4 linked regions of the Homo sapiens genome follow. The protein of the gene in region 4 interacts with the protein of the main gene of each other region in a pairwise test. Each region holds a gene or a part of one and is shown on either strand. Other genes may lie near its edges.

Region 1 (7,776 bases), on a different chromosome or scaffold from region 4:
GTAAAAAGTGGGGCTGACTCAAAACCTGTGTCCTCTTTGAGCTCGTCAGGGAGGCCCTCCGTTTGGAAGAATCCCCTGGGCTTTCCTTAAGTTAGCTTATGGTTGCCTCGGGTTAGGAAGAAAAGTCATCATTCCTCGCGGTAGTGGAAGTGACACCTTAGGGGTCCAGAGAGTGGAGCTTTATGGCTCAGAAGAGCACAGGGCTTCTGGATCCGTTATCTGCCAGCTGTGTGACCTTGGGCAAGTTGCTTTACCTCTCTGAGCTTCGGGTTGTCACCTGTAAAATCAGAGTTTCAGTCGTAGTTCTGTCCTCAGAGGGTTTGGGGGTAAATTACTTAAAGCACTAAACATTTAGAACAGTTTGGCACATGGTAAGTGCCTGAATTCTATGAGTTTTGTTTCTTTATTCTTTCAAGTAGATTCCTCTAATTTTTGAGCCTTGTAGCACCGAGTGGTACAGGAAAGGCAGGTGGCTTGCCTTATACACACACGTTTTCTTTTAAGTAAGGAACAGAAGCCTCAAGCTCTCCCATTCTGCTCTCTGCATGTTCCAAGGAGGATCACGGACAAGCTGCCCACCCACTGGCCAAGATATAGGTTGGTGGCATTTGACTTGCTGTCTTGACAAGCACCTGAAATTAAGTTTTTGCAGCAGTTGTACATTTCTTCTGACCCACTGAAAGGACTTGATCTCCTTGGCCCCCTGGGATGAAAGTATTACCTTAGCAAATCTGTTTTTTTTTTTTTAATTAGAACATCATTTATTTAATACATAGAATATTTTGAAAACACAAGAATCGAAGAATATTAGAAGTGGCTTTATCATTCCTCCTGGGATTCACACATTGCAATTAGTATGTTTAGATATAAAATTTTGTGGCCAGGTGCAGTGGCTCATGCCTGTAATCCCATCACTCTGGGAGGCTGAGGTGGGCGTATTGCTTGAGTCCAGGAGTTCAAGACCAGCCTGGACAACTTAGCAAAACCCTGTCTGTACTAAAAATACAAACAATTAGATGGGTGTGGTGGTGCACACATGTAATCCCAGCTACCCTGGAGGCTGAAGTGGGAGAATCACCTGAGCCTGAGAAGGTTGAGGCTGCAGTGAGCCGATATCACGCCACTGCACTCCAGCCTGGGTGACCAGAATGAGACCCTGCCTCAAAAACAAAACAAAACAAACAAACAAACAAAAAACAATTTGTGATAGTATCTAAACAATTTGTGATAGTATTTAATTGTATAAACATATAAACATCTGTGGCACACATTTGCCCATAAATGAACTGAATGCACAAATACCTTGATCCAGTTTTTAGAAAGAATTTTAGTTTTGTTGTGGCAAGAACACAACATGGGCTGTACCCTGTGAAAAGATTTCTAAGTATATCATACATGACTGTTTTAAGGATAGTATTGTATAGGAGATGTCAAGGAGTTATTTACCTTTACTGCATGAGGGATTCGGGGATCTAAAATCGTCAAACTCATAGAAGCAGAGAGTAGAAGGTTGTGGCCAGGGTCTCAGGGGCCAGGGAAATGAGGATTTGCTGATCTAATCAACAGGTATAAAGTTTCAGTAATGTTGTAATAAATCTTGCTGTCCGTAGAACGTACAGTTTTTTACATCACCCTGAAGCTACAGAGTTTTCCACTCAGAAATGAAGCTGAAACATGGGTCTGAGCGGGTTTCTCCTCCTGGAATTGACCCACTCTGCCCTATTTTTCTTCTCATTATAATTGAAGCTATATATATATATATATATAGAACCTGCTCCTGTAAGGTTTGAGCACAGGTCTTCTAGACATCCTCATGTCTCTGATGATTTTAGAAAAAAATTAAGCTTAGTCCTTTTAGCTCGAACCATCCCAAGCTATTATATTTTATCAAAGTCCTTTCTGATAGTACATATTTTTTGTATCCAGAAAATTGGGTCTGCCCTGTATAGGAATCTGACATTTCACCTTTCCAAAAATTAGACCATTTCGTTTGCATCCTTTAAGCTGATGTGTGGAGTAATGAACACATTCCAAGAGGGAAATCGTATTTGACACAGAAAATACTTTGGAGACGCAGCGATTTCCCAGTGGCGTGTAAGGAGACTATTGAAATCCTAGCACGTTTGCTCTGAAGGACAGAGGGCAGCTCGTCCTGCCTTTGCCACCCAGCATGGGAGTTACACAGTAAGCATCATCCACAAATTAATACTGGCTGACTTTCCTAAAATCATCCTTTAATCTGTCGCTTTCACATTTACCCACAGTGTCGTGCCGGAGACCTCAAACACCGAGGCGACGTTTTTAAAGAAGCCACGAGGCTCTTCCCAATGTCTACCTCCATTATTTAAAATACTGCCTCGAGGCACAGGTATAAATATTAAAACTTTAATTAAAGAATCAATCAGTGATGGAGCTTCAAAACAAGGGGATCTAGCACTTTCAGATGATGTCAACTGTGAACACAGTTAGACTCGGTCGTAGGGCTAGGAGTTTTTATGAAAAATGACGCGTGGAGTTATATACACAGGCAACTGTCCTCATTTTTTGAATCTGTAGTCATTGTGAGCACTGTCACTCATTACCACTGGTTTGTCATTGTTCGCTAGTCAAAGAGACATGGGTGACTGTGGCCTGCTGCTACAGAAGAGTGTGTTGTCTTAGGGGAAGGAGTGGCTAATGCAAGAAATATTTATTTGGAATGTACCACATGTTAGACCCTGTGCTTGGTGAATAAGGCAGACGAGAACTTTCCTTTCTTGTAGCTTATATTGTCGTGGGGGAAGCCGCGTCATAAGCAAGACGTTGAAATATATTTTCATAAGGATAATGAAAAGGGTTCCAAAAATTATAGTGTGATAGTGACTTGGGGGGACATTCCAGAGAGGAGAGATTTGACCTGAGAAGTACATGAAAAGAAGTAGCTGATCTGTATGGATCCATACATTTATCCAATGAGTATTCTACTCATCTCCGCTTTCTTTTTTTTGAAACAGAGCCTCACGTTGTATCCCAGGCTGTAGTACAGTGGTGTGATCTCATCTCACTGCCACCTCCACCTCCTGGGTACAAGTGATTATTATGCTTCAGCCTCCTGAGTAGCTGGGATTACAGGTGTGCTCTGCCACGCCTGGCTAGTGTTTGTATTTTTAGTAGGGATGGAGTTTCCCCATGACTGGTCTTAAACGCCTGACCTCAAGTGATCCACCCGCCTCCTCGGCCTCTCAAAGTGCTAGGATTACAGGCGTGAGCCACCACGCCCAGCCTCATTCACCCCTACTTTCTATGAATTCCTGAGTGTTCATCAGGCACCCACTGTGTGCCAAGCACTATTGAAAGCACTTCAAGTGCAGAGTGATCAATACATGCAGATACCTTGTCCTAAAAGACTTCCGTTCTAGGATAGTTGTCTGCATGGAGGGCGTTTCAGAGAAGGGGACCAACAAGCACAACGATCCAGAGGCTGGAATAGTGACAAAATCATACAGTTGAAGGTTGGTCCTATAGGCCCTTGTGGCCTGGGAAGGGACCCTGGCTGTTATTCTAATGGGAAACCATTGGGGGATTTTATGCAGAGAGATACCAGGATATATTTATGTCTTAAACATTATGGGAAAATTGTTAGGTGTTTTTGAGATGAGTGAATAAACAAGCATGCCTTCCTGGCCGGCCGGCTCTATTTTTTCAAAGTTTCAATTCATTTCTATGACCAGATTTGGTCTGTGGACGTAGTGACATCTGAAAAGGTAAGCCTTGCAACGTCTGAGAAATTAAACTCGATTCCCCACCACCACCTACTTCGTAGGGCTTACACTAAAATCTTTCATTCAAGAAGAGGGATTACTTTATAGGGAAAAAGAACCTCATTTTCCAGTAATGTTCTTTGTGTGAGGGTGGAAGACCCTGGGAGGATACATCTGTATACATTAGCCTACTTAGATTTTCTTTCTCTGGGGCCTCCCTTCAAAGAGGCAACATCATGTGTTCTTGTGTGCCTGCATGAGCAGCCGCACCCTCCCACCACCACATCCTTTTGATGGCTTGACTGACAAGTCTCCTGGGAGTACCCTGAGAACAGTTGCACTCAGATGCCCTTTATTGATCGTCTGTCCGGGTAGGTTCCCTTTCAGAGTATGGCCACAGATTCTCCCATTGGTAGGTGTGGGCCAGGGTAATAACAGATATTGACAGTGCAAAGTGGGTTGCTTATGGAGAGCTCTGAGTGCAGCCGACGTTGTCCATCTTCAGAGGCTACCCTGCCCTTAGAAGGTTGAGGTGCAATTTGTTGGAGGGTTTGGACACCTGGACAATTCAGTTTTCCTCCCACATTGACTGTCTCTTTATCCACAATACTGGAACTGCATTATTGCCTATTATATGTGACATGAACATCAGAATAAGTGTACATGGATTGAACTCTTCCTATGTAGCACAAGCTGAGCCAAGCACTGTACCTTCATGGCTGTGTGTTGTGCTATGTGTTTCAGGCATGTGATCGCCTCCCCCACCCACCCAGCAGTTCACCTTATTCGATTCCTGCTCATCCTTCAGGTTACAACTCAAAAGCCCCAGGCTTAGAGAAACTGTCCCTGTTTGCCTGTGTCGATTCTCGTTTTTTACAGCCATCCCAGGGGCATCTTATATTTTATTGAGTGACTCTGTTTTATCCTTTTTCTCTTACTCCACTCCATGGTCAACTGCAGGTGGACCATGCATACACCTGTTTGGACATCACTGTCTCCTTAGCATCTAGCGTGGTGCAAGGCACACAGCAGAAGCCCCATATGGAAATAATGAATTATTCCATTTGATGCTTCTCACACACTTTGAGGTTAGTGCTTTTCAGATCCCCATTTTGCAGATAGAGAGTGGGGTGTAGGCAGGCGTTAAGCAATTTGTCCAAGGACACAACAGCAGGTAAGAGGCACTTCCAAGATTTTGAACCTGACAGTCTGAGTCCACAGCCCCTGATGCTCATCACTGTGCACATGGCCTCTTTTGCTGCCTTTGCAAGATACAAGGGAGGGTGGGAGGCAATGTGTGCAGTGGTTAGGGAGCTCTTGCTGCATAGCTTGAGTTGCTCTGAGAAGTGATGCTGAGCCCATTAGAGCCACAAAAGGAAAACAAGGCACTTGTTTCTATTTATTGCAGTATTACTTTATCGTTGTGTAAGAGCCTCGCTAGATTTCTGCACTGGTGCAATCTGGCTCTTGTTTTGTTGTTTGTCTCCTTGGAGTCTCAAGGCCCTGGGTTGCCCAGGGCATCTCTGGCCTCTTTATCTAGGCTCACGCTCTGAGTATGATTTTGAGGGAGCGGTTGGACCACCTGCCTGGTTACAGGCAGTCCTTGGGCATCATGCAGTCACAGCTGGAGCTGCTCTGATAGCCACTCAAAATGTGGTGTGCAAACCACTGCTCACTCCATCTAATCACCGTCATCTGAATCAGCTTCCCTCTTCATTTCTTCTGAGAACAAAATTAGATCTTTGCCAGCATAATGGATGAACTTGTGCAATCACCTTGTTCATTGCTAGTTCTGCATTTCCCCAAGATGTTGATGTCTCTTTTCTGTGAATTTTAGAATATAGAGTGTCAGAGATGAGGGTGAGGACTTGAGGTTTTCAAAATTGTCTTCTTTGTACCATGGTTGGGACCCTAATAGCTATGACACTCACTGGAAGCTCCTTCTGTGCTAGGGCTTCCTGTGTGTCATTTCATTAACTCTTCATGGCAAACCCTTTATTATACCACTTGACAGATGAAGGAACTGAGGCCCAGTGACTAAATGGCAAACCGAGATTGCAGACTCAAGCAGTTCTCTTCCCCTGCTGTGTGTGGAGAGGGCATGCTTGGGATGCAGGGAATAGCAGAGGCACCATGATAAGGTACTAGGAAGGAGGCAGTGCAGGTATTTCACTGAGATTCCAGAATCAGTGTGTCTGGCTTGAGATCCCAGCTCCATCACTTTCTAAGTCCATAACCTTTCACTTTCTTCAATTTCTCTGAACCTCAGTCCATCCCTACAAATGGAGATTATCACTACATTGTACAGTCCGTCTGAGGATTAATCAGCCTGGTAAATTATTTTAGCAAAGTGCCTGGCACCTAGTGTGTGTTTAGTGCAAGTAGGAGTCATAGGGCTGACTATGATAATCATGACGATTACTATTATCCATTGATAATAATGATATCATTATTAACCTTGTTTTTGTTGCTAGAATTTCACAATCCCTTTGGGCAGCAAATTGGTCCCAGAATGTGCTTCGTATATTTTCCTCTTGACTGTAACTGAGGTGACAAATTGAGAGTGAAGGGGGAAGAACCCAGCGTAGCTGCAAATGTACGGTTGAGATCGTTGACAGACTTGAGGCCCTGTGTGGAGTTCCGCCTGCAGAGGATGCTGACAGCAGCCATATGCATGGGCTCTGATTGATTGGCAGAGAGAAACACTAATTTATTAGACTCGTTATGAAAAGTGACGGAGCAGGGGATTGAGAGGGCTGATTCAGCAACAGTAGCCCTGGCTAGATCCCAGGGGTATTGGCTTGGTGTCTGTTTCCCTTGGGACCAGCCCCCTGTCTTGATTCTGGGTCACTGCCTGTGTTCTCAAGTGAGTCTCCTGAAGATGTCCATGGCATGGCTCACTTTTACCACGTTGTAAATGTCATACCTATTTCTTCAGTATCCTTAGAAAGCTGAGTCCAGTTCAGGTTGCTGTTGATTGCAAAGGCTGATAAGAGGAGGGAGGGAGTGTGTGCATGCAGAAATTCCCCAGTGGAGGGAAAATAGTCCTTTTCACAGGTTAGAGAAAGTGCAGTAGTTTCCTTGAGGGAGAATAAAGGGCATGGTTGATACCTCTCTTTAAGAACATGATGACCGGGCATGGTGGCTCCTGCCTGCAATCCCAACACTTTGGGAGGCTGAGGCAGGAAGATTGCTTGAGCCAGGAGTTGGAGACCAGCCTAGGCAACATAATGAGACCCTGTCTCTGTTAAAAAAAAAAAAAAAAAAAAAAAAATTAGCTGGGTGTGGTAGCTCATGCCTGTAGTCCTAGCTACTCAGGAGGCTGGGACAGGATTGCTTGGCTCTGGGAGTTTAAGGCTGCTATGAGCTGTAATTGTGCCACTGCACTCCATCCTTGGCAACAGAGCAAGACCCTATCTGTAAAAAAAAAGAACATGAAGCTCTTTGTAGAAAGATTTCTCATTTCTGATTTGGAGAGATTGTTCAGTCTGAATTACAGCAGGTAGGATGCTGGTTAAAGAAGTGTCTTGCCTTCAAGGTGATAAGGCACTGAATGGGGCTATGTTGGAGTCAGAAAAGCTTTGAGAAGACTGAATTCCCTGAGCGCCAAGGTGCGAAAGGACAAAGTCATGGCAGCCAGGTACACTTAACTTGTGGATCCAGATTCTGCCACTTCCTGGCTGTGTGAGCTTGGGCCAGTTACTGCACCTCTCTGAGCCTCCATTTACTTGTCTATTAAAAGGCAAATGATTCTGTCTCCAAGGATGGCTACCTGGGAGTGAGTTAAGTCAAGCAGCAATCACACAGACTTCCGAGCTAGTCACTTCTTATTTTTTTTTACCTTGTGGTATTCAGACAATAGCCTCTCACCCCATGACTCTTTGATACAAAAGGTTCCCTAGTTAGTGTGCTGTGATTTGTGGAAAGATATTTTGTTTCCTAGTGAATTTCATTCATTTTGCTCAGGAAACTTTATTGGTTTTGTCTGTGTAAACCTAAAATAATCTTCAAAAGTTCATAACAAGAACAAGGAACC
Region 2 (6,641 bases), on a different chromosome or scaffold from region 4:
CTGCCTTGGCCTCCCAAGGTTACACCCATGAGCCACCATGCCCAGGCTATTTTAGTTTTTCTTACAGGGTCTTGCTTTGTCTCCCAGGCTGGAGTACAATGTCATGATGATAGTTCACTGCTGCCTCACCCTGTTGGGCTCGGGCTGGGACCCAGGCTCAAGCCATTGCACTCAGCTGTTTTTTTTTGTTTTTTTTTTTAAGGTTTTTGTATTGACAGGGTCTCCCTATGTTGCCCAGGCTGGTCTTGAACTCCTGGGTTCAAGCAGTCCTCCTACCTTGGCTTCCCAATGTGCTGAGATTATAGACATGAGTAACCACACCCAGCCAAGTTTATTACAAATTGTAGAGAAGAGAATAAAATTAGGGAAGTGACATCAGAGGGAGCAAGTGACAGAGCGAACCCAGAGAAGTGGAACATGCCAAAGTATGGCAATAATTGTTCCCAGGAGAAAAATTATTTTTTTAAGAAAAGGAAGGCCAGGCATGGTGGCTCCCGCCTGTAATCCCAGAACTTTGGTAGGCCGAGGTAGGAGAATTGCTTCAGCCCAAGATTTGAAGACCAGCCTGGGCAACATAGCAAGACCTCATCTCCACTAAAAATCAAAAAAAATAATCGAGTGTGATGGTGCACACCTGTGATCCCAGCTACTAGGGAGGCTGAGGTGAGAGGATTCCTTGAATCCTTCTTTGCTGAGAAGGGCTGTTTTCTGCTCATCCTGGATCTTGGGGGCTTCAGATATGTCTAAGAGCAGAAAAGCTTTTCCCATTGCCACTGGGTCACAAAATAGCCGAAAAGTAGACAAAAAATAGAGTCAGAACTGCCTTAAAGAGATGGAAATGCACTATTAGAGAGCCAGCTTTGTTTTGGCAAGAGCATAGAACACAGAAGAGGAGTGTATCGGGCAGAATGTTCTTTTTTCTGCTTCCAGGAAGTGTCACACACTGTGCTTGCTTGGAGAATCCCGAAACCCTGCAGGAGAATACTGTTGCCTGCTCCTATCTCATTATGCACCCAGTGCACAAACATGTGCATACTGACTGACTTCAGCACATGAAGGGGCTTGGTAGTCATTCAAATGTCATCTTTCTTTGGTGCAGACCTGGCTGACCAGGGCTCTTATTCAAATTATTGACCTTTGCCTGTACCTAGCTCTGGGCTCACTTATGAACCAGGGTCTTACAGTAACACCAGCCCTGTGGGGGGGATCTTGTAATAGTTCAAATACTGGCATATTGGCTAGGCGTGGTGGTTCACGCCTGTATTTCTAACTGCTCAGGAAACTGGCAGGAGGAGTCTTTGAGTCCAAGAGCTCAAGGCTGCAGTTAGCCATGATTGTGTCACTGTACTCTAGCTTGGGTGACAGAGCGAAACCCCATCTCTTTTTTTTCCCTTTTTTTTTTTTTTGAGACAGGATCTCACTCTGTCACCCAGGCTTAAGTACAGTGGTGCGATCACGGCTCACTGCAGCCTTGACCTCCCAGGCCCAAGGAATCCTCCCACCTCAGCCTCCCTGGTAGCTGGGATCACAGATGTGCACCATCACACGACTAATTTTTTTGATTTTCAGTGGAGATGAGGTCTGGCTATGTTGCCCAGGCTGGTCTTCAACTCTTGGGCTCAAACAATTCTCCCACCTCCGCCTCCCAAAGTTCTCGGATTACAGGCGTGAGCCACCATGCCTGGTCTTCCTTTTTTAAAAAAAGATAAATATTGTAGAAGAGACCCTGTATCTTAGCTAATAATAATAATAATAATAATAATAATAAAATCCCCCAAAGAGTATCAGTCTCTTTATCTAGAGAAGAAATGACAATAGCCGTTTTTTTTGTTTTTTTTGTTTTTTTGTTTTTTTGTTTTTGAGATGGGAGTCTCGCTCTGTTGCCGAGGCTGGAGTGCAGTGGTGCAATCTCGGCTCACTGCAAGCTCCACCTTCTGGGTTCACACCATTCTCCTGTCTCAGCCTCCCGATTAGCTGGGACTACAGGAGCCCGCCACCACACCCGGCTATTTTTTGTGTTTTTAGTAGAGACGGGGTTTCACCATATTGGCCAGGATGGTCTCAATCTCCTGACCTCGTGATCCACCCGCCTCGGCCTTCCAAAGTGCTGGGATTACAGGCATCAGCCACTGCGCCTGGCCGGCCTTGCTTTTTAGAGACAGTTGAGATGAGAGAAGACTTGGTAAGGGCAAACGGGCGTGCATGCCAGTTCTTTGGGTCCTGGACCACCTTTGAAAATATGCAAAGCTCTGTACACTCTCAGAGAATTATGCATATATGCAGAGTTTGGTTTATAGTTTTCTGTACTTCACTGTCTCTGAGGGCAGTCTTTTTGCCCTGTGTTAGCCTTGGATTAGAGGGTAACAACAATCATGTAAGGCTGTGGTTCTCAAGTGTGGTGTTAGAAGTGCTCATCATCAGGTTCCACCTCAGAAACAGATTGGGACCCAGCTATCTGTGTTTTAAGAAGCTTTCCAGATGATTTTTGCCACACTTTAGGGAGAGTCCCCTGATGAAATTTATACTCCTGTGTGGTCCTTATGCTTCACACATCCCATATTGTACCTTTGAGAGACCACCTGCCATCCTCTTGTTGTGACAGTACTCTATTCCTCCTAGGCTATGTCTTGCCCAGCCACGTGACTGAGGAGATGCTATGGGAGTGCAAGCAGCTTGGGGCTCACTCCCCCTCCACCTTGCTGACCACCCTCATGTTCTTTAATACCAAGTAAGTGTTCTAGAGGCTCCACTGCTGGCATCTGTCCAGTGAAGAGTGTGGAAGCTATCCAAGAGGCCTTCTGAATTCCTCTGACATATATTTGAGAAACTGGGCTACTGAAAGCCCTAACCCCACTTGGCTGCATTTTATTTGGTAACCAGTGAGGCAAACACCCTTGCCAGACCCCTACCATCCATCTTGATGTGGTTCCTGCACTGGACACTGCTTGGGTACGGGCCTGCCCAGATCTTGGGAATGTGGGCAGTGGCTCCTCTGAAGCACCAGTGGGCAGAGGATGAGTCATGGTATCCTCCCGGCACCCCTCCCTCTGCCTTGCATTTTACTTGTGATCCAGGTACTTCCTATTGAAGACAGTGGACCAGCACATGAAGCTGGCCTTCTCCAAGGTCTTGCGACAGACAAAGAAGAACCCCTCTAATCCCAAGGATAAAAGCACGAGTATCCGGTACTTGAAGGCCCTTGGAATACACCAGACTGGCCAGAAAGGTAGGGAAAGGAGGCAGGGATGGCAAAAACAGGTGCTACTTGTCCTGCCCTGTCCTGCCCTTGTGCCTGTGAGGCTAGTGATAAGTGTAAAGGTTGGGATTTGCTGGATAAAATTCTCCACTCCCTTCTCCCCAGCCAAAAATTCCAAACTTTCCTCCTAGAAGCAGAGAAGCCCCAGACAGAATAGCTGCCTCTTCCCTTAGTAGTCACTGCCCATGCCTCATACCTTCCCTCCCCCGACCCTGTATTTCCTAGTTGGGCTGGCTGAAAGCCTAAGTTTCCTGATCTGGGCCTGAGGTAAGGCAGTCTGATGCCAGGTCTGTGGTGGTGGGGATGTGTGTTTTATAGTTACAGATGACATGTATGCAGAACAGACGGAAAATCCAGAGAATCCATTGAGATGTCCCATCAAGCTCTATGATTTCTACCTCTTCAAATGGTGAGGCTTTATTGTGACTTGCTGTCCATGTGTGCGCATGTGTGTGTATGCGTGTGCATGCTCACTTGTGTGATCACTTATCATAGGGGAGAGGCATTCTCTAGTCCCAAACCAAGTAAAAACACTTCCAGAAAGCTAAATTTAGAAGCAGCCTTGCTCTGGCTTTCCAAAGGTGTGTGATGTGCCTAGCACTGATAGAAAAAGGGGTCCCGGGTCCCTACAGTCACCTTTCATGAAAAGGGTATGAAGGTACAGAGAATCTACCTTCATCACATATTGAGCATGGCCCTGCTTCCTGACCTTGACCTTTTGTCACTGCCATCATTAATCTAGGTGAGACTCCTCTCAGCTTTTTCTCCCTTTTGCCCCTTCAATGGTTTCTCATTACATAGTAATTCTTTTATGGCAGACAACTCCTTTGATGCACTCCCCCTTGCTAACCTCATGTCTGTGGAGCTCTTAGTTCCCTAGCCACACTAGCTCCTCTCCACTCAAGGACATCATATTATGCCTCTTCTCAACTTAAACACAGCTTATCAGGGAAGCATTTCCAGATTCCCCACCTCTTCCCTGTGACTGTTTCCTCGGTAGCACTTATCACTGTTTTTTATTTTGTATTTGTTTAACTTTAATTGCTACCTGTGTCCCCTCCTATCTGTAAGCTCCATGGGTAGGAAATACTTTTCCTGCCCATTTTTTTAAATATCAGCACCTAGTGCTGACCTGGCACTAGTAACCCTTGAATAAATCTTGAATGGATGGATGAATAACTGTTAGAGGATACAGCATGCCAAGTACTTAATAGAGGTACAGCACAGTTCGGGGGAGGGGGGTGAACCCAAGTTTAGGGCCCCACTGTAATGGCCATCATTATTGGGTAGAAAACACAACATGAGGCTGGGCACCGTGGCTCACGCCTGTAATCCAAGCACTTTGGGAGGCCAAGGTGGGTGGATCACCTGAGGTCAGGAGTTCGAGACCAGCCTGGCCAACATGGAAAAACCCCATCTCTACTAAAAAATACAAAAATTAGCTGGGCTTGGTGGCTCGTGCCTATGGTTCCAGCTACTCCAGAGGCTGAGGCAGGAGAATCGCTTCAACCAAGGGGGCGGAGGTTGCAGTGAGCTGAGATCACCTCACTGCACTCCAGCCTGGAGACAAGACGCCATCTCAAAAAAAAAAAAAAAAAAAGCGCAAAGACTTGGAGATAGACGCTTTGAGCAGTGAAGCTGGCTTCAAGTAGGATAAGGATAGACTCACATGAGTCCATGAGAGCCCTAGGCTGGTGCAGTCAGTGATGGATCACAGCTGGTTTGTGGGAAGGAGGGGCAGAGGGGAAGTAACCCAACATTTGGGGGATTTGCAGTAGTCCCAAAGGAGGACCAGGATGTAGTGTGTGGTGGCTGCATGGAATTCAGTAGCTGTGCCACAATAACTTGGGGCCTTACTGTTTGCAGACAGCATCTGTCTGGGAAGTTCAGGGTGGGAGGGTTGAAGTTATATTGGTGGTACCCAACTTTTATCCGCATATTCTTCAGCCCCCAGAGTGTGAAAGGCCGGAATGACACCTTTTACCTGACACCTGAGCCAGTGGTGGCCCCCAACAGCCCAATCTGGTACTCAGTCCAGCCTATCAGCAGAGAGCAGATGGGACAAATGCTGACGCGGATCCTGGTGATAAGAGAAATTCAGGAGGCCATCGCAGTGGCCAATGCAAGCACTATGCACTGAGATGCCTTGGCCATGGCACAAGAGAAACCAGCCAGGAAAAACCAGACAGACTTTCACACTAAAGAAGAGGCCTCCATTTTTTTTTTTCTTTTTTTTATTGGTGTAGTTACGAAGCCTTTCAGGCTGCTTCTGTTTAAAATATAAAAGAAAACTTTGCCCCCTTTGCATCTTCATAAACCTGCTGCGGCAGACTCCTCAGCCGATGGTGGCTCTGGGTTTCCTTGAGTGTCATATGTCCTAGAAAGTTGCTGGCTGACTCTTTTTTGTCTGGGGCCTGGGGAAAGGGCTTGGACTGTGAAAAGAAATGTGGCCCCTTTCCATCTTCAAGAGAGATGGAATTAATGATGGATGGACCCTGGAGGGAATCTCCCCAGCCGACTTCCACTGGGCTGACAGACTTTGCTGACCACAGGGGAACGATGTTCTTTTCTTTCTTCATGATCAGACATAAACTTAGCATCTTAATGGAAGAAAAATGAGGGGAACTTCAATTATGATTTATTAAAGACAATTTCTATTACACCCTCCTTTATGACAAGTGACATTTTAGATGTAAAAGTAAAAACTTTACCATGCCTTTTTTTTTTTTGTTGGCCTAACATTGAGGCCTTAAAACCTGAGGCTCCTGTGCCTGATGGAATTCTTGTAACATACACTTGTGTATCATATAAAGATACCACTCTGTTTCTCTTATGTATTCTTACTCTAGTTGTTTATTAAGAATGACAAGCACGTCTTTTCAACATGTTAGTGAACAACGTCTCTTTATTTTGGGGAGGAGCCCGGCGGGACAGTAGAAGTAAACCCTTGCCTGTTAATTGAACTGGCCGAGGTCCTGCGGGGAGTGTGGGGTGGGACGTGAAGTGGCAGCTCCTCAGTGACAAGGCCACTATGTGCTATACGCATGCGCTGTTTCTTCAGCGCCAGCTCCGCCCCCGCCGCAGCGAGGCGGGTAGGTTCCGCCCGCGCGCACTACGCCCTGACGTCAGCGTCGCGCGCAGCGCAGTGACGAAATCGGCTGGTTTATATTGGCGCGGCCCAGACGGCAGAGGTCTCTGCGGCGCGGTCCTCGGAGACACGCGGCGGTGTCCTGTGTTGGCCATGGCCGACTACCTGATTAGTGGGGGCACGTCCTACGTGCCAGACGACGGACTCACAGCACAGCAGCTCTTCAACTGCGGAGACGGCCTCACCTACAAGTGCGGGCCTATGGGGCTCACCTGGGCGAAGAGAGGGGCGGCACCC
Region 3 (7,776 bases), on a different chromosome or scaffold from region 4:
GATTGTAAGCAGATCTAATTAGTGGTAAGTTCCATTCCAGGGTAGGGCAGAAACTTAGGGAAATAGTATCCAGTCTGGGGAGAAATTCATTGTTCTCTTTAGATAACATGATCCTGATGCTGATGTTCTTTATCTTCAGGTTGAGGTGAGGACCCCTGGTAATGTAATGGGTTCAGGAGATTTTTGCAAAGAGAGGAAAAGGGCAGGGCAAAAGCCTGTTTAGACTGCCATTTACCATATCAGGAGAGAGTAAGAAATTATAGTGATGAATTTTGAAAAATTAGAAACTTTTGATCTCTTCCCTACATTTCATACTTTATTTCCTGTTCAGTGTGGAGAGAAAAATTCATAGAATAAGAAGGTACTGTGAGCTTGTCTTCAGGGGTTGGGTTGGGGGAGAGGCAGGTAGAAAAGCTGTAAGCTAGCTTCCCATTCACAGCTAGGCTTTGAGTGGGAGAAGGAAGCCCCAAGGGACTGAGTGGATAGTGATGGCTAAAAGAAGAGGGAGAAACAGATTGAGCTTCTGAGACTAGCTACACAAAGGTGAGAGCTTGGAGGCTAATGTGTATTTCAGAAGGGATATCAGGATGGGGTTTCTCGTGGGAGGTTTGGTGATCCTGATAGTTAAGTTCCATGGCAGCTGGACCAGATGCATCTTGCTTTTCTTCTTTGCACAGAATGTGAAGGCTGTGTCTGAGACTCCTGCAGTGCCACCAGTTTCAGAAGATGAGGATGATGATGATGATGATGCTACCCCACCACCAGTGATTGCTCCACGCCCAGAGCACACAAAATCTGTGAGTCTTTGGGGACCTGGCCAGTTTTGTGATTTATTAGAGTAAGTGGGGAGAGGGAGGAGTTGGTGCTGATACCTAGAAGTTTAATATTCTGGTAGGCGTCCTTAGATTTTGGAGCTGGTGAAATCACTGAACTACCTTGACTAAAGGTACTTTCTGTATGATTAAAGACAAAAAATCATGTGTTTATTTATCATTGGTTTGCAGATAGTCCCAAAGTGTCCTAGGTAATTGATGTTTATACCAGTCCAGTCTCGGTTCTCCACAGATAGGACAGGAAGATATATAGGATTGATGCTACTTAGTGCAGGACTAACATAAATTATTCCAGTCTCCAGGGAAGCAACAAATTGTCTTGCTACAGATCTTTTCTTCTCTGTTAAATGTGCAGTGTTCAGCCTCTTAGAGCATTATTGATAATATTGAAAGACCCAAGAGAATATATAAATACATTAGTGCTATTAATATGCTGGGCATCAGGAGTGCATTTTGATGCCGGATGTTGGCAGTGATTTCTATTTAACTTCCTTTGAGGTTCCTGCATCTCTGAGAATAGCCATGGTCCCTCTAACCTTGCTTTGAAACATCTAGTCCCTGTGCCTTTTACTTAATTTGGCATCACTGAGCACTGACCTACCATCAGATGATACTCTACTAGTGTTTCTTTGTTTAGGTCTTTTACTAAGATGAGAGCTCCATAATGAAGGAACCATCTAGCACTTCTGTGATCATGAAAGAAAAAAAAAAGGGCTACCTCTGGAATACAGCATTCAGGGAGGTGTTCAAACAGAAATTGGTTGAATGACTATTGGAGATGCTGTGGAGGAAATTCAAAGGAATTATATGACCTATTAGGATGAGAACTTACAAACAGAATCTGTGGAATCATCTCTGTAGGTCACAAAGTTACCTCAAGGGAAAATGCGCTTCAAAATTGGAGAGTCGTTAACACTGATATGGTTTTTTTTGGTTTGTAGACATGTTCATTTAAAACATTTTTTTCCCCACTAAACCATGAACACCTCAAAAAGTAGAGGAAATCCATATGTATGTATTTCTAGTGCTTAACATAGTTCTTGGCACCTGCAGAGGTGGGTAAATATCAGAGGACAGTAAATATTGAATTAATTAATTAATTGATCTTCATAGCATTTCTTTCTAAAAAGGTATTGGTAATTCCTAATTTATAGAAGAAGCAGCTGAGATTTGGAGAGGTGAATTGATCTGCCCAGTCTCTTAGTAAACAAAAGAGCCAGGATTTGAAAGCAGGTAATTAACCCCAACTCCAGGTTGTTTTCCACCATAGCACAGTGGTATTTTTGTGTGTACAAACCTGTGCTAGGAGCCAGAGAAGGAGACTATTAAAGAAGGAAAAGGCAAGGTTTCTGTCTTCAAAGAGATATATCAGGACAGGCAAAAGAGGACAAGGCATGGAAGTACAGGTTTAGGTGCCTGGGATATAGTTTGTCTACAGGTACAAGAATAGAAAATTGAGAAATCATTATGCTAGAGTAGTAATCAGGAAGGAAGCCATTGCCTCTGATCTCAGCGTCTTGGCTTATTGCTGTTCCCACTACTGGAATGTTCTCTCCCATTTCCACCTATTAAAAGCCTGTCCAGTCAAAAGGTAGCATGGTCAAGCAGTCCAAGGTGCAGGATGTAGTTGGCTTTAGTCTCTGTGGAGCCATGGGTTTGAGTCCCACTGTTGCCAATGGCTTTGCATCATCGCAGATAAATGATCATCATAGATAAATGATCCTCTATCTTTGTAGAAACCTATCCGTCCTTCAGGATCCAGTTGCAGGATCCTGTTTGTTTATTTATTCCATCAAATATTTACCTGAATGCTTGCTTTCTTTTAGTAAGTGGTTAGATGGAGGAACTCACGGATGAATGACCCACATTCCCTGTCCTTATACTGTTTATGGACTATGCAAAAGATAATTGTGATATTTTTATGATAAAATCTGTTAAATACCTTGAAGCATCTCCTGGGGAAAGGAAGTATAATTTATGATCACTTCTGAACCTCAGTAGTATATAGCTTGCTTATTTCTTTATAACATGTATCACTTTCTGCCTTGTAGTTATGATTTTCTCACCTCCTTTATAAGAATGAGAGGTTGGGGCAGCATTTTGTACAGGGTGAGGCAACAAATAGATTCTCAGTAAATGTTTGTTATGTAAATGAATGAATAGGACATTTAATATTTTTAAAAGGTAAAATTTGAGTGCTTAATGTCTGCTGGGGATGAGTCTGATTACCTCACATATTAATCAGTTTACTCCTACAGCAACCCCAAAAGATAGTTATCATTATTATCACCATTTTATAGATGAGGAAACTGAAACACAGAGAAGTTAAGTAACCTGCCCAAAGTCATGCAGAAGGTAAGAATAATAAGAGTTGGGATTTAAGTTCAGGCAGTCAGGTTCCAGAGTCCATGTTCTAAATCATCACACTCTACTACCTCTTGATGAAGAACAAAAGTAGTTCCTTCCCTGCAAGGGTTCAGGATGTAAGGAGGGAGTAACTCAATAGAAGTTGGTGTTGTACTAGTAATGCAAAGTGCTATTTGCATTACTACAGGATATGTCTTTTAACTTGGGGAAGCATAAAATATTACAAATGAAGGGGATTCTTACCTAATAGAATTGTCTTCAACTAATTTCTTTTGTTACAGAATATTTCTTTTAGCTTGGGGAATACAGGATATTTCTTTTAGCTTGGGGAAGCATAAAATATTACAGATGAAGGGGATTCTTATCTAATAGAATTGTCTTTAACTAATTTCTTTTGATAGTTGTCTAGCCTCTATTGAATATCTTTAGTGCTGAGACTCTCACTTCTTTTGTTTACAGTGAGAGTAAGGAAGGCCATTTTACCCAGAATGGGTGGGCCTGGGCACAGAGGAGGAGTAATATAGATTTTGACATAAGAGAAAGGATGAGTTTATTGGGGTTTGCTCTGTGGATGTTCTAACCTCACATCTAGGAGAGGTTCCCCTATGCTAACAAAGGCTGGTCTTGCCAAAATTTTGCACTAATAATGCAGGTATACACACGGTCTGTGATTGAACCACTTCCTGTCACTCCAACTCGGGACGTGGCTACATCTCCCATTTCACCTACTGAAAATAACACCACTCCACCAGATGCTTTGACCCGGAATACTGAGAAGCAGAAGAAGAAGCCTAAAATGTCTGATGAGGAGATCTTGGAGAAATTACGTAAGGAATTTGTAGCTTTCTGAACCTTTCTTCGTTTTATGACTGGTCAAGCACAGAGATTTGCTGGTCGTAGGCTTGGTCCATGCAGCTGGCTGGCCATGCTTGGTACCTTAGGCACAGACTGCTTCTCCTCACCCTGCCCCTGAACCTCCCTTCCCTGTCTCACAGCCCTGGTTGGATACTATGTTAGGATGGAGATGTGGTGAGAGTGTGGATAGCTTACTTTGAGGGCAGGGCATCCCTCACCCCTAGGCATGTATTATAGCGAAGACAAATAGTTTTTCTCTAATGAATAGCCTAGAATGCCATGTTGAGAAAGACTGAGGACCTAGTGGAAAAGGGCACTGTGATCAATTATTGATGTTTTGCCATTGACCTAGGAGAAGACGCATCTGCCATCTTGGTTGTAGGAAAAGAGGGAAGGGAAGTTAACATTTTATGAACCTATAGTATGTATCAAATGACAAGCAAAATATTTTCTTGATTTTTTTTAAATTTAATTCTCTTATTAACCCTGTGAAGAAAAGCATTATGATCCTAATTTTTGCAATGAAGATATCTGAGGCTCAGGGAGGCTAAATATCCTGCCCAAAATCACGCAGCTAAAAAGTGACATGGCTGAGGTTAGAACACAGTTTTTGTTCCTGTAAGTAGAGCATACTGCCTCTTGCTGTCAAGTGGAAACTTCCATTTTACTTTCTTTAGCTGCCAGAAATGGGGGTATGTTAGGGTAGCTTATTTCTGTGTTTCAGTAAACTGCAGAAGAATTCATGTTAGAAGGAAGAACTAGGTTGATCTGTGGGCTTGGAAGAATCATTTGACAAGGGCTTTAATTTATTCACTGTATCTACTTACTTCCAAAAAGGATTTGATGTGACCGATTTGGCGACGTCTGCAAACTGGCATTGCTTTGTGGTTCTCTAGTTCTTCCTGATTAATTCCTATATGACTTTAAAACAAATTTTCACTGTTTTAAAAATTGCCCTTTTCTGGATCCCTCATAAAATGACAAAGTAAGAAAAGCCACTTACCTAGTCATCTGTTTACTCCTGTATGTAGTCTTGTTCTCTAAACCAGAGTTTTTTGTTTTGTTTTGTTTTAACAATAACACTTAGAATTATGACTTAGAATTAAGACTTGGCCTGGGAGTTAGGACACTTGAGTTGAAGCTTCTGCTCAGCCACTGACTTGTGTCTTAGGCAATTTTCTACTGTTCTCTAAACCTCATTTTTCTCATTTTTAAAATAGGGATGTTAATACTTGTCTCATTTGCAAATCAAATGAGGTAATATATGTGAAAAGTACCAATTCCTAGTAATTGGGTATTAATGGAGAGCACATTGGACCGGGAGACTAAAAATGAAACTCCTAATCTTAGCTCTGACACCAATTTGCTGTGTGACCTTGGGGGGGAAGTATCTTCTTCCCTTCTGTGGGCCTCAATTTCTCCATCTCTAAAATACAAGTTATAAAACCCAGTGGAAAACCTCTATGTCGTTGCACTTGAAATATTCTTTGTTGTAAACCTCTTCTCTACTTTATCTCTCTGGCTTTTACTTAAAGTGGAAATCAGTCCATATATCACCTTTCTGAAGTTTTTCCAGTCTTTTTTTTGTGTGTGTGTGCCTCTTTCTGTACCCCTTTGGCTTTTATCACAGCAATTATTATATTTTCATGGAACTTTATGCTTACTTATCTGTCTCCTCCATGAAATTGACCTTCTTGAGAGCAGGGACTGCCTTGACTGTGTCATATCTCTTCATTCCTAACACAACATATGGCTTGGTGCGTATTAAATGAGTAAATATTTACTGAATGGATTAATTAAAAAATGAATGACTTTTAGGAGTTTAGAAATGGAATAGCTTACTATGAATCAAAGCAGTCAAGGTGATGAAACTTTTGGTTGAGACTTATGGGGGAAAAGCTGAGGGCCTGTTTAGCATGCTTTTTGGCTATTGGAGGTAGTTCTTTAACCCTTGCCAGCTACAGGGGTTGGGGAAATGTGGAACCTTTTTTGTATCTTGATTTGGGAAAAAATGATTCATGGTCTCTGTTTCTTTCAAAGGAAGCATAGTGAGTGTGGGCGATCCTAAGAAGAAATATACACGGTTTGAGAAGATTGGACAAGGGTTAGTAGGGGCATTTTCTTTCCCTGGAGAAATGACTTTAAAGTGTGTGTGCCGGCATATATGATTTTGCTTTTTTTTTGCCTCTCATAAACCTTGTTCTTCTTTCTCCACTTTACCCCTCACCCATCTGGAGTTGTTATGTGAGACTGACTTGAGATTTGGCAGAATTATGCTTAATATGAGAGAGATGCCATTAGCTGACCATGTTGCTAAAAATACCCCTGCAGTGACAGTGAGAGAACGGTTTTTTTTCTTAGCACAAAACCAACTTCCCAAATTACAACTCTGCTTTTCCGGATGAACCCTGTTTGTCCTAGTGCTGAGATCCACCAGCACTAATATAAAATGGAAGACCCAAAACTATAAATCCTTCTACTACTGTGATAGGACCTGTTTTTCTAGGTAGATGCCAGAATTTATCCTTCTTGCATTCATCCTTCTCTGTATCTTATATGCTGCCCTCAGTGTAATGAATTCAGCAAGTCTTAACTGAGTTCCTATTGTGTGCAAGGCACTATGAATTCAGAGACAATCTCTGCTTCCAAGGACCTCAAGTCAACAGAAAAAGATAGGCAAACAATTGTATAGTCATATGTTGCCTAACAAAGGGGATATGTTCTGAGAAGTGCATCCTTAGGCAGTTTTGTCATGTGAGCGTCATAGAGTGAACACAAAACTAAATAGTATAGCCTACTACACACCTAGGCTATATGGTATAGCCTCTTGCTCCTAGGCTACAAGCCTGTACAGCATGTTACTGTACTGAATACTGTAGGCAATTATAACACAATGGTGGTTGTATATCTAAACATAGAAAAGATACGGTAAAAATACAGCATAAAAGATAAAAAAAAGGTATATTTATGTAGGGCACTTAACATGGATGGAGCTTGTAGGACTGGAAGTTGCTCTAGGTGAGTCAGTGAGTGGTGAGTGAATGTCGAGGCCTAGGACATTACTGTGTACGCTACTGTAGACTTTATAAACCCTGTACACTTAGACTGTACATTTATTAAAAAACAAAGTAATTGTGCTATGACGTTACAACTGCTACAGTGTTACTGGGTGATAGGAATTTTTCAGCTCCATCATAATCTTATGGGACCACCATCATATGCGGTCCATCGTTGACTGAAACGTCGTTATGTGACACATGACTGTCTTGTGTTTTTAAAGTGTTTGGCTGTTATTTTGAGTGAAAGAAGCTAGATATGAAAAAGCAGATACTGTCTCATTTGATTTATATGAAATTCAAGAACAGGCAAAAGTAATATATGATAATAGAAGTCAGAATAGTGGTTATTTCTGGGAGGAGGATGTAGAGTGGGAATAGGCATGAAGGAATCTTCGGGGGTAATGACTGTAGTGTCTTTTGAAAGTGGCCATTATTTTGAGTGAAAAAAGCCAGATATAAAAGAGCAGATACTATGTCATTCTATTTATATGAAATTCAAGAACAAGCAAAACTAATGTATGATAATAGAAGTCAGAACAGTGTAGTTATTTCTGGGAGGAGGATGTTGAGTAGGAATAGTCATGAGGGAATCTTTGGGGGTGATCTTGGTAGTGAACACATGGGTGTGTACATATATAAAAATCAAGTTGTACACTTAAGAT
Region 4 (7,776 bases):
TGAAAAGGGGTGCATTGAAATTTATCCCTGAGCAGCAGACATGAACTGGGACTTGGGCGTGTGGTCACCCTGCTCCACACCTGTTCTCAGGAAAGGGCCTGTCTAGCTGTGATTTTGTCCTTGTGTCACCAGCCTTGGCTGTTACTGAGCAATGAAAGCTCTGCCTCGGGAAGTCATTTAATTTCTGAGCCTCATGTTCCTCTTCTGGAAGATGGGAATGAAAGTGTGCGTGTCCGGCCCATTTTTTAGGGCAATGATTGTCAGGGTATGAAGAGCTTGGTCAAGCTGTGTGAAGAGCTGTACAGCTGCAGAGGTTGTTAACATTGATAGAGCCACCCAGGAAGGGTGTCCTGGGTTCAGGCAGCTACTCCTCCAGCCGTCGGGTCAGCCAGCCGTAACTTTAGATACACTTATCCATGTGTAATGACTTTTTAAGAAGCAAGATCAGTTTCCCCAGCCCTTTATGGGAATACCCATGTGTCCATACTTGCTTTCAGCTTAGAGTTTGCTCAGGTTCCTAGAGCTGGTCAGGGTTTGCAGGACCGCCTGGGAGCAGATGGTACCATGGCCTTATTTACAGATGAGGAAACTGAGACCCAGAGGGGAAAGTGACTCCCAAGGTCATGTAGGTAAGCATACGGCTCCCCTAAGGATGAGGCATTGGTCTGGTGACAGTGCAGCCCATCATAAGGGACTGAGCCTGTGGGGTCCAGACCTGCTCTCCTCCCAGAGGAAAAGGCTCCCTGTCACCCCATCGCTAATGCAGATAGCGTCATGTCCAGGGAAGCTGTCACACATTCATCTGGGCCCCCAACATCAAGGACACCTGTCCCTGCAGGCCCCCTGCTGGCACCTTCGGGGCCCAGGGCAGGCCCCTGTCCATTCCGTGTCTGCACTTCCCTCCCTGGTCACAGGTTCTCAGGGGCAGGCTCTTTTCCTTAGCAGAAAGGAAACAAGGGAAGCTGACCTTTCCCACCTCAGAACAAAAGTTGGAAGGGCAGGTGCCTCGTGAGCCTGGAGGCCTCAGGAGGGGTGTCCCCTTCCCTTGTGCCCTCCCCGCCACCAACACCAGTGGACAGGGATCACTAAGAGAGTGGGGCTCGGGAGACTCACCTTCTGCGCTGGGTCTGTGAGAACATCACCTGGAGTGCCCCTCCCAGCGGATGCTGGGGTCGGTTGGATTTTCAGCCTGGCCAGGGTTGGCTGCCTCACCTCAGGAACAGGCTTAGCCTGTGCTGCCACGTGGGTGCCGGTCCTTGCTCTGGCCTGAAGGGAGGGGGCCGGGAAAGGAGGGACTGATCCTGACCCAAACCCCTAAGTAAACTGCCCTCTGCGTCCAGACTGGACTCCCCCCAGACTCTGTCCAGGCCCTTACCACTGCCCTCCCTGTGCCCCCAGCCCGGGCTGCAGGAACTATTGGCTGTTCAGCCAGCAGGAGCAGCAACCATGCAGGTGTTTCCAGCTGTTAACGTGTAAGCCCTGCCTGGCCACGTGCTTGCTCTTGCCTTTTGTGCACAGCCAGTGCCAAGGGGGAGAGGAGGCAGCAGAGACGTTGTGCGGAGGGGATGCCCAAAGGGGACTGCCCAGGCTGGGACAGCCCTGATGGGGCAGGGGCGTTCCAGGAAACAGCAGGTTTTGCCTCTCCTCCTCTTCCCACCCCACTACTCCCACCCCATTTTCCCGGATCAGGAAAAGGCAGGCCAGCATTCTAGGGAACAGGAAGTGAAGTTGGCTTCCAGCTAGGTGCCTGCCAGGGCCTGGAGGAAATTCCTGCAGGCCTGAGCCCGTCTGGGAAGGACCAGTTTCTCTCCTTGTCCTGGTGTCCTGCTTTCTGAGTTTCCCCTGAGGGTGGGGGAGAGCTGTCACTCTCTTCACTCTATGTCCCGCTTCCTCCCCCATCCTCATGGAGCACTCAAACCCTGAACCCTCACACCTTTCTATGGTTGTACCCGTCCCCACCAGTTTCCTCTCTGGAAAGTGAAGAGGAGGCTGGGCACGGTGGCTCACGGCTGTAATCCCAGCACTTTGGGAGGCCGAGGTGGGCAGATCACAAGGTCAAGAAGTTCAAGACCAGCCTGGCCAACATGGTAAAAGCCTGTCTCTACTAAAAATACAAAAATTAGCCGGGCGTGGTGGCAGTTGCCTATAATCCCAGCTACTCAGGAGGCTGAGGCAGGAGCATCACTTGAACCCGGGAGGCAGAGGGTGCAGTAAGCCGAGACTGTGTCACTGCACTCCAGCCTGGGCGACAGAGCGAGACTCCATCTCAAAAAAAAAAAAGAAAGAAAAGTGAAGAGGATAGAGCCCACTAGGGGTCATCAAGGTGTGGGACAGGCAGCATGTTCCTACAGGAAGAAAACTCTAACTCCTGGTTCTGGTTCTTTTTCATCTCATTCATTCATTCATTCATTCATTCATTCATTTGTTTTGAGATGGACTCACTCTGTCTCCCAGGCTGGAGTACAGTGGCTCGATCTCAGCTCACTGCAATCTCCGTCTCCTGGGTTCAAGTGATTCTCATGACTCGGCTTCCCAAGTAGCTGGGATTACAGGTGCCCACCACCATGCCTGATTAAGTTTTGTATTTTCAGTAGAGACAGGGTTTCACTGTGTTGGCCAGGCTAGTCTTGAACTCCTGACTTCAAGCAATCTGCCAACCTCGACCTCCCAAAGTGCTGGGATTAAAGGTGTGAGCCACCGCACCTGGCCATCTCATACTTTCACAATTCATTCTTTGGTGCAAGTTTTACAATATACATTCTATATTTGTCAAGTGATAACTTCCATGTAACTTATAAAATACACATAATTCAGGAAGATTGTGCTAAAATACATTTAACCAATAGGAGTATGCCGTCAGAATATTTTGGCAAACAAGGGTCACTAAGTTTTTTCTGTAAAGGGCCAGGTAGGAGGTATCTCAGGCTTTGTGGCCATATGGCCTCTGTGGCAGCAGCTCAGTTCTGCAGTTCTGCCATGAAAGCAGCCACAGATAAGAGGTAATTGAGTGGGTGTGGCTGTGTTCCAATAAAACTTTATTTCTGGAGGCTGAAATTTGAATTTCAGAGAAATTTCATGTGTCATGAAATATTATTCCTCTTTTGGTTCTTCTTCCCCCCCTCCACCGCCCCCTGCCAAGCATTAAAGAATGTGGAACCCGTTCTTAGCAGCCGGCTGTGGGCTGGATTTGGTCCATGGACCATAGATTCCCAGCTTCTGCTCTAGACCACCCGTTCTCAGACTTGAAGCCTGCTTCAGACTTACCTGGAGAGCTTTTTTCCAAAATGCATATTCCAGAACCCCAGCCCTGATTTTGTAGATTTTCTGGAAGGCCCCAGAACCCGCATTCTAACAAGGAGCCCAGTTGAGTCAGACACAGGTAGTCTGGAGTCCACTTTTTTTTAAACAGAGTCTCAGTCTGTTGCCCAGGATGCAGTGCAATGGCGTGATCTTGGCTCACTGCGACCTCCGCCTCCAAGGTTCAAGCAATTCTCGTGCCTCAGCCTTCCGAGTAGCTGGGATCACAGGTGCCTGCCATCATGCCCAGCTAATTTTTGTATTTTCAGTAGAGACGGCATTTCACCATGTTGGCCAGGCTGGTCTCAAACTCCTGACCTCAGGTGATCCACCAGCCTCAGCCTCCCAAAGTGCTGGGATTACAGGCGTGAGTCACCGCGCCCGGCCAGGAGACCACATGTTAAGAAGCAAAGCTCAAGGGTCTCCAGGATCCTGGTCTGTTCTCTTCAGCCAGTCCTGAGGCCTGGGGTGTGCAGTGCTGTGGGAGACCCCTGCATCAGAATAACTGGCTCCTTCACTACCTTCCAGGAGCTTCCATCCAGTGGGGGTGGGGGACACCACCCGCCAACAGCACAGCCCAGTCCCAGGTGCTATGGAAGCCCTGGGTTCAGCCTGGAGCCAGGGCCAGCGTCCCGAGGATGAGGTGCCGAGATGGACCTTGAAGGATGAGAGAAGCCTGGACTGCCCTTGAGTGGCGAGGGTGGGCTGCCTCCAGGTTGACCTTAATCCCTTCCCTCCCTACCACCATGTGTCCAGATGACCTTGGGCAGGTCCCTTAGCCTCTCTGGATATCGGGATATGACATTGACTACCTCAGAGACTTGTGGGGAGGATTCGGCGAGCTGATATGCATGAAGTGTATCAACTAGGGCTGCTGGCTGGTATCTCCTTCCCTTGTCTTCCCCCACCACCCCAGCCAGGGGACAGGGTGCTGCTGAGGGAGTGGGCTGGGAGAGTCACTTCTGGCCTTGTCTTAGGGATCTGAGAACAGGGCATGGGCCCCGTGTCTGGGAGTGCCCTGGTGCCCTTCCTAGTGGGGTTGGGCGTGGTCAGTCTGGCCAGGGCTGGCTCCCTCCCCCATAAATAGGCTCACCTGGAGGTCTTTTCCCATTTGAGGCAATGAGATATGTATGTGAGGCTTTATGACTTGTCTTTTTTTTTTCATTTTGAGACAGAGTCACGGAGTCTCACTCTGTCACCCAGGCTGGAGTATAGTGGCATGATCTTGGCTCACCGCAACCTCTGCCTCCCAGGTTCAAGCTATCCTTTTGCCTCAGCCTCCCGCGTAGCTGGGATTATAGGCGCCCGTCACCACACCCAGCTAATTTTTGTAGTTTTAGTAGAGACAGGGTTTCACCAAGTTGGCCAGGCTGGTCTCGAACTCCTGACCTCAAGTGACCCACCCACCTTGGCCTCCCAAAGTTCTGGGATTACAGGCGTGATCCACCGTGCTCGGCCTCACCACCCGCCTTTCTTGTGGTGTAGTTCTTGCTGCCTCAAGAACTACATATATCAGGCCTCAAAACCCACCTGATATATGCGTGCCTGGGAATAGGGACCTTGACTTTTCCCCTGTCCCATATGGGCCCAGGGGCCGGTTCTGGGCTGGCCCAGGTGGGGCTAGAGCAGCTGGATCCAGGCACATGAGATGTGAAAGTGTGGGCCTTACGCCGCATGGAGCGGCTGGAGGAAGGAGAGAGGGAGCAAGGGTGCCGCAGGGTCAGATTGCCACAGGGCCAGGGTGCCACAGGGTCAGGGTAGGGCCAGGGTGCCATAGGGTCAGAGTAGGGCCAGGGTGCCACAGGGTCAGGGTAGGGCCAGGGTGCCGCTGGGCCAGGGTGCCGCAGGATCTGGTTGCCACAGGGTCAGGGTGCCGCAAGCACAAGGAGTCACCCGTGATTCTCCAGGGTCTGGCTCTTGGGCTGAGATCCAGGAGACCTTGGCAGGCCTGTCTTTGGGAGTCTGGCACAGCCCCAGAAGGCCATCTGGACAGTTTTCAGACCTGAGAGGAGGAAAGGGCTTGTGTCTGGAGAAGGTGCCATGGGGGATGGGAGGTGGAGGAAGCCTGGGGCCAATCAGGATCTGGATCTAGCAGGGAACACCGAGGCCGGTGTTCTCGTCCCACCATGGGACTCAGCCTGAAGAAGACAAGGTGAATGAACGACCATTTCTCTCTAACTCAGTTGGCTAAGAGGACTGAGCTGGCGCCGAGGCTCTGGACACAAATGGGCCAGTTGACCCTGAGGTTTCTTTCTGGTAGTGGAGGTGGGGCTTCCTCTGGCTGACCCTGCTTAGGTCTCTGATGGAGGTAGCAGGGGCTCTGGTTCCCCCAAACTGGCCAAGTCCTCCACCATAGCACCCAAGGGGTCTGGGCAGAGTGCAGCTTCCCTCCCCTCCCCAGCTTGGCTTGGTGGGCACCTGCCTCCCCTGCCCTCCTGACCTTGATGGCTAATGCAGCCAGCCCCAGGCAGGCACAGTCACAGCCCTCAAACAACATGAGGCCCAACTCAAGACTCCTGGGTGGTGGTGGTCAAGGTGGGGGACTCTGTAGCCAGTAGAGCACTGTGGGGGCAAGAGACTGACTTGAAGGCTTGGAGCCTCACATGCCCGCCTAGTGGGGTGGTCCTGAGGGATATGACTTCTTTGGGCCTCTCTGCTCATTTTTGGAACCTGACCCGAGAAGGAGCCCATCCAAGACAATGTCCCGCCCTCAGGGAGGGTCTGGCAGTTTTTATCCCTAAAGGCTGGGATTCTCAGCGGAGCATCCTAGGCTGTAGTACCCACGACATCTTGCACACAAGAGGTGGAATCGCCTGTTGATGAAGAGCAAGGCTCTGGAATCTGTGATCTTGGGCCACTCACTTCACTTATCAATCCCTTCGCTTCCTTCTTGCCTGTTACATGGGGTCTGCAATCTACCCCTCAGGGGCGCTGACGAGCTCACATGAGCCTGTGACATAAAACACCTAGCACGGCCCTGGCGCAGTAAGAGCTCAGGAAACGGGCTGCTGCTGTGGTTACTGTGGACCCAGGCGGAAACAGAGCAGCCCCGCCCCTGCCGCAGGCATATAAAAGTGACCACTTGGCCGGTCACGGTGGCTCACGCCTGTAATCCCAGCACTTTGGGAGGCCGAGGCGGGTGGATCACCTGAGGTCAGGAGTTTGAGACCAGCCTGGTCAACATGATGAAACCCTGTCTCTATTAAAATACAAAAAATTAGCTGGGCGTAGTGGCAGGCGCCTGTAATCCCAGCCGCCCAGGAGGCTGAGGCAGGAGAATCACTTGAACCCTGGAGGTGGAGGTTGCGGTGAGCTGAGATCGTACCATTGCACTCCAGCCTGGGCGACAGAGCCAAACTCCGTCTCGAAAAAAAAAAAAAAAGAAAAGGGACCACTCACTTTGGTCTGATTCTTCAGTTCTCATGGTCCTTTTACATCGGTCATTTCATTGCATTCTCCAACAGTGTCTGAGGGAGACTGGTGTCTCATTTTGCAGAGGTGAAAACTGAGGCTTGGCAAGATTAGGTAGCTTGTCCAAGGACACACAGCTGGTGCTTCCAGAGCGAGACCTGGCTTTCTGTACCCAAAGCTCTTGGGTAGTCTCTCCCATCCTGGGATCTTGAGGGTCACGGGAAGGAACTGGGTGGTTTGCAGTGGGACCCTTCACCTAGTGCCTTCTGACCTTGCAGATAAAATACCATGAGGAGTTTGAGAAGAGCCGCATGGGCCCTAGCGGGGGCGAGGGCATGGAGCCAGAGCGTCGGGATTCACAGGACGGCAGCAGCTACCGGCGGCCCCTGGAGCAGCAGCAGCCTCACCACATCCCGACCAGTGCCCCGGGTGAGTGCAGGTCCTGTTGGTGCAGATGACCTGAGGCGAGGCCAGTGGGGTGGGGAGGAAGCCAGGAGAAGACAGACAGACAGATACACCTTCCGGAGCCTTGCTCTTAATCAACAGGCGATTATGCCTCTTGTGTGCAAGAGGGGACCAGAGGACCTGAGGCCGGGCCAGCTGGGGTGGGGAGGAAGTCGGCGAGAGACAGACACACACACACACACACACACACACACACACACACATGCACGCACGCATGCAGGCGAGGAAAAGACTGCTTCCCAAGACCCCAAGTTCCATTCTCATCCAGAATGAGGACGTGAGCACCAGGGTCAGGCCTGTACTGGGCCAAGAGGATTGAAAGGAGAGGCCCCCAGGTCATGGGGCTCAGAGCCCCTGCGTGGGATACAACACACAGGCAAATGTGCACACGTGGACATCAGCCTTTGAGCTGTGGGGCTTGAGCCAGGTTGGGGGCGGGGTGGAAGTGCATGGTATGGACTTCTCGGGAGCTCTGGGAGGGGCTGGGTTTGGCAGGACAGTTTCCAAGCCCTGTCTCCTCCCATCTTCCAGTTTACCAGCAGCCCCAGCAGCAGCCGGTGGCCCAGTCCTATGGTGGCTACAAGGAGCCTGCAGCCCCAGTCT

What was found.
Region 1: the proteins of LASP1 (region 4) and RBFOX1 interact in binary tests that used the Homo sapiens proteins (3 or more experiments, as listed by UniProt).
Region 2: the proteins of LASP1 (region 4) and QRICH1 interact in binary tests that used the Homo sapiens proteins (3 or more experiments, as listed by UniProt).
Region 3: the proteins of LASP1 (region 4) and PAK1 interact in binary tests that used the Homo sapiens proteins (3 or more experiments, as listed by UniProt).

The regions. Positions count from the first base shown.
Region 1 is NC_000016.10:6,021,521-6,029,296, forward strand, and holds part of RBFOX1 (RNA binding protein fox-1 homolog 1), read left to right. Parts: intron 1-7,776. UniProt on the Homo sapiens protein: RNA-binding protein that regulates alternative splicing events by binding to 5'-UGCAUGU-3' elements. Regulates alternative splicing of tissue-specific exons and of differentially spliced exons during erythropoiesis.
Region 2 is NC_000003.12:49,029,207-49,035,847, reverse strand, and holds the end of QRICH1 (transcriptional regulator QRICH1), read left to right. Parts: intron 1-2,619; coding exon 2,620-2,728; intron 2,729-3,074; coding exon 3,075-3,226; intron 3,227-3,574; coding exon 3,575-3,665; intron 3,666-5,203; coding exon 5,204-5,396; 3' UTR 5,397-6,141; downstream 6,142-6,641. Other genes in the region: IMPDH2 (inosine-5'-monophosphate dehydrogenase 2), read left to right, coding at 6,498-6,595. UniProt on the Homo sapiens protein: Transcriptional regulator that acts as a mediator of the integrated stress response (ISR) through transcriptional control of protein homeostasis under conditions of ER stress.
Region 3 is NC_000011.10:77,351,919-77,359,694, reverse strand, and holds part of PAK1 (serine/threonine-protein kinase PAK 1), read left to right. Parts: intron 1-677; coding exon 678-797; intron 798-3,852; coding exon 3,853-4,027; intron 4,028-6,095; coding exon 6,096-6,159; intron 6,160-7,776. UniProt on the Homo sapiens protein: Protein kinase involved in intracellular signaling pathways downstream of integrins and receptor-type kinases that plays an important role in cytoskeleton dynamics, in cell adhesion, migration, proliferation, apoptosis, mitosis, and in vesicle-mediated transport processes.
Region 4 is NC_000017.11:38,907,339-38,915,114, forward strand, and holds part of LASP1 (LIM and SH3 domain protein 1), read left to right. Parts: intron 1-6,986; coding exon 6,987-7,137; intron 7,138-7,640; exon of another isoform or gene 7,641-7,704; coding exon 7,705-7,776. UniProt on the Homo sapiens protein: Plays an important role in the regulation of dynamic actin-based, cytoskeletal activities.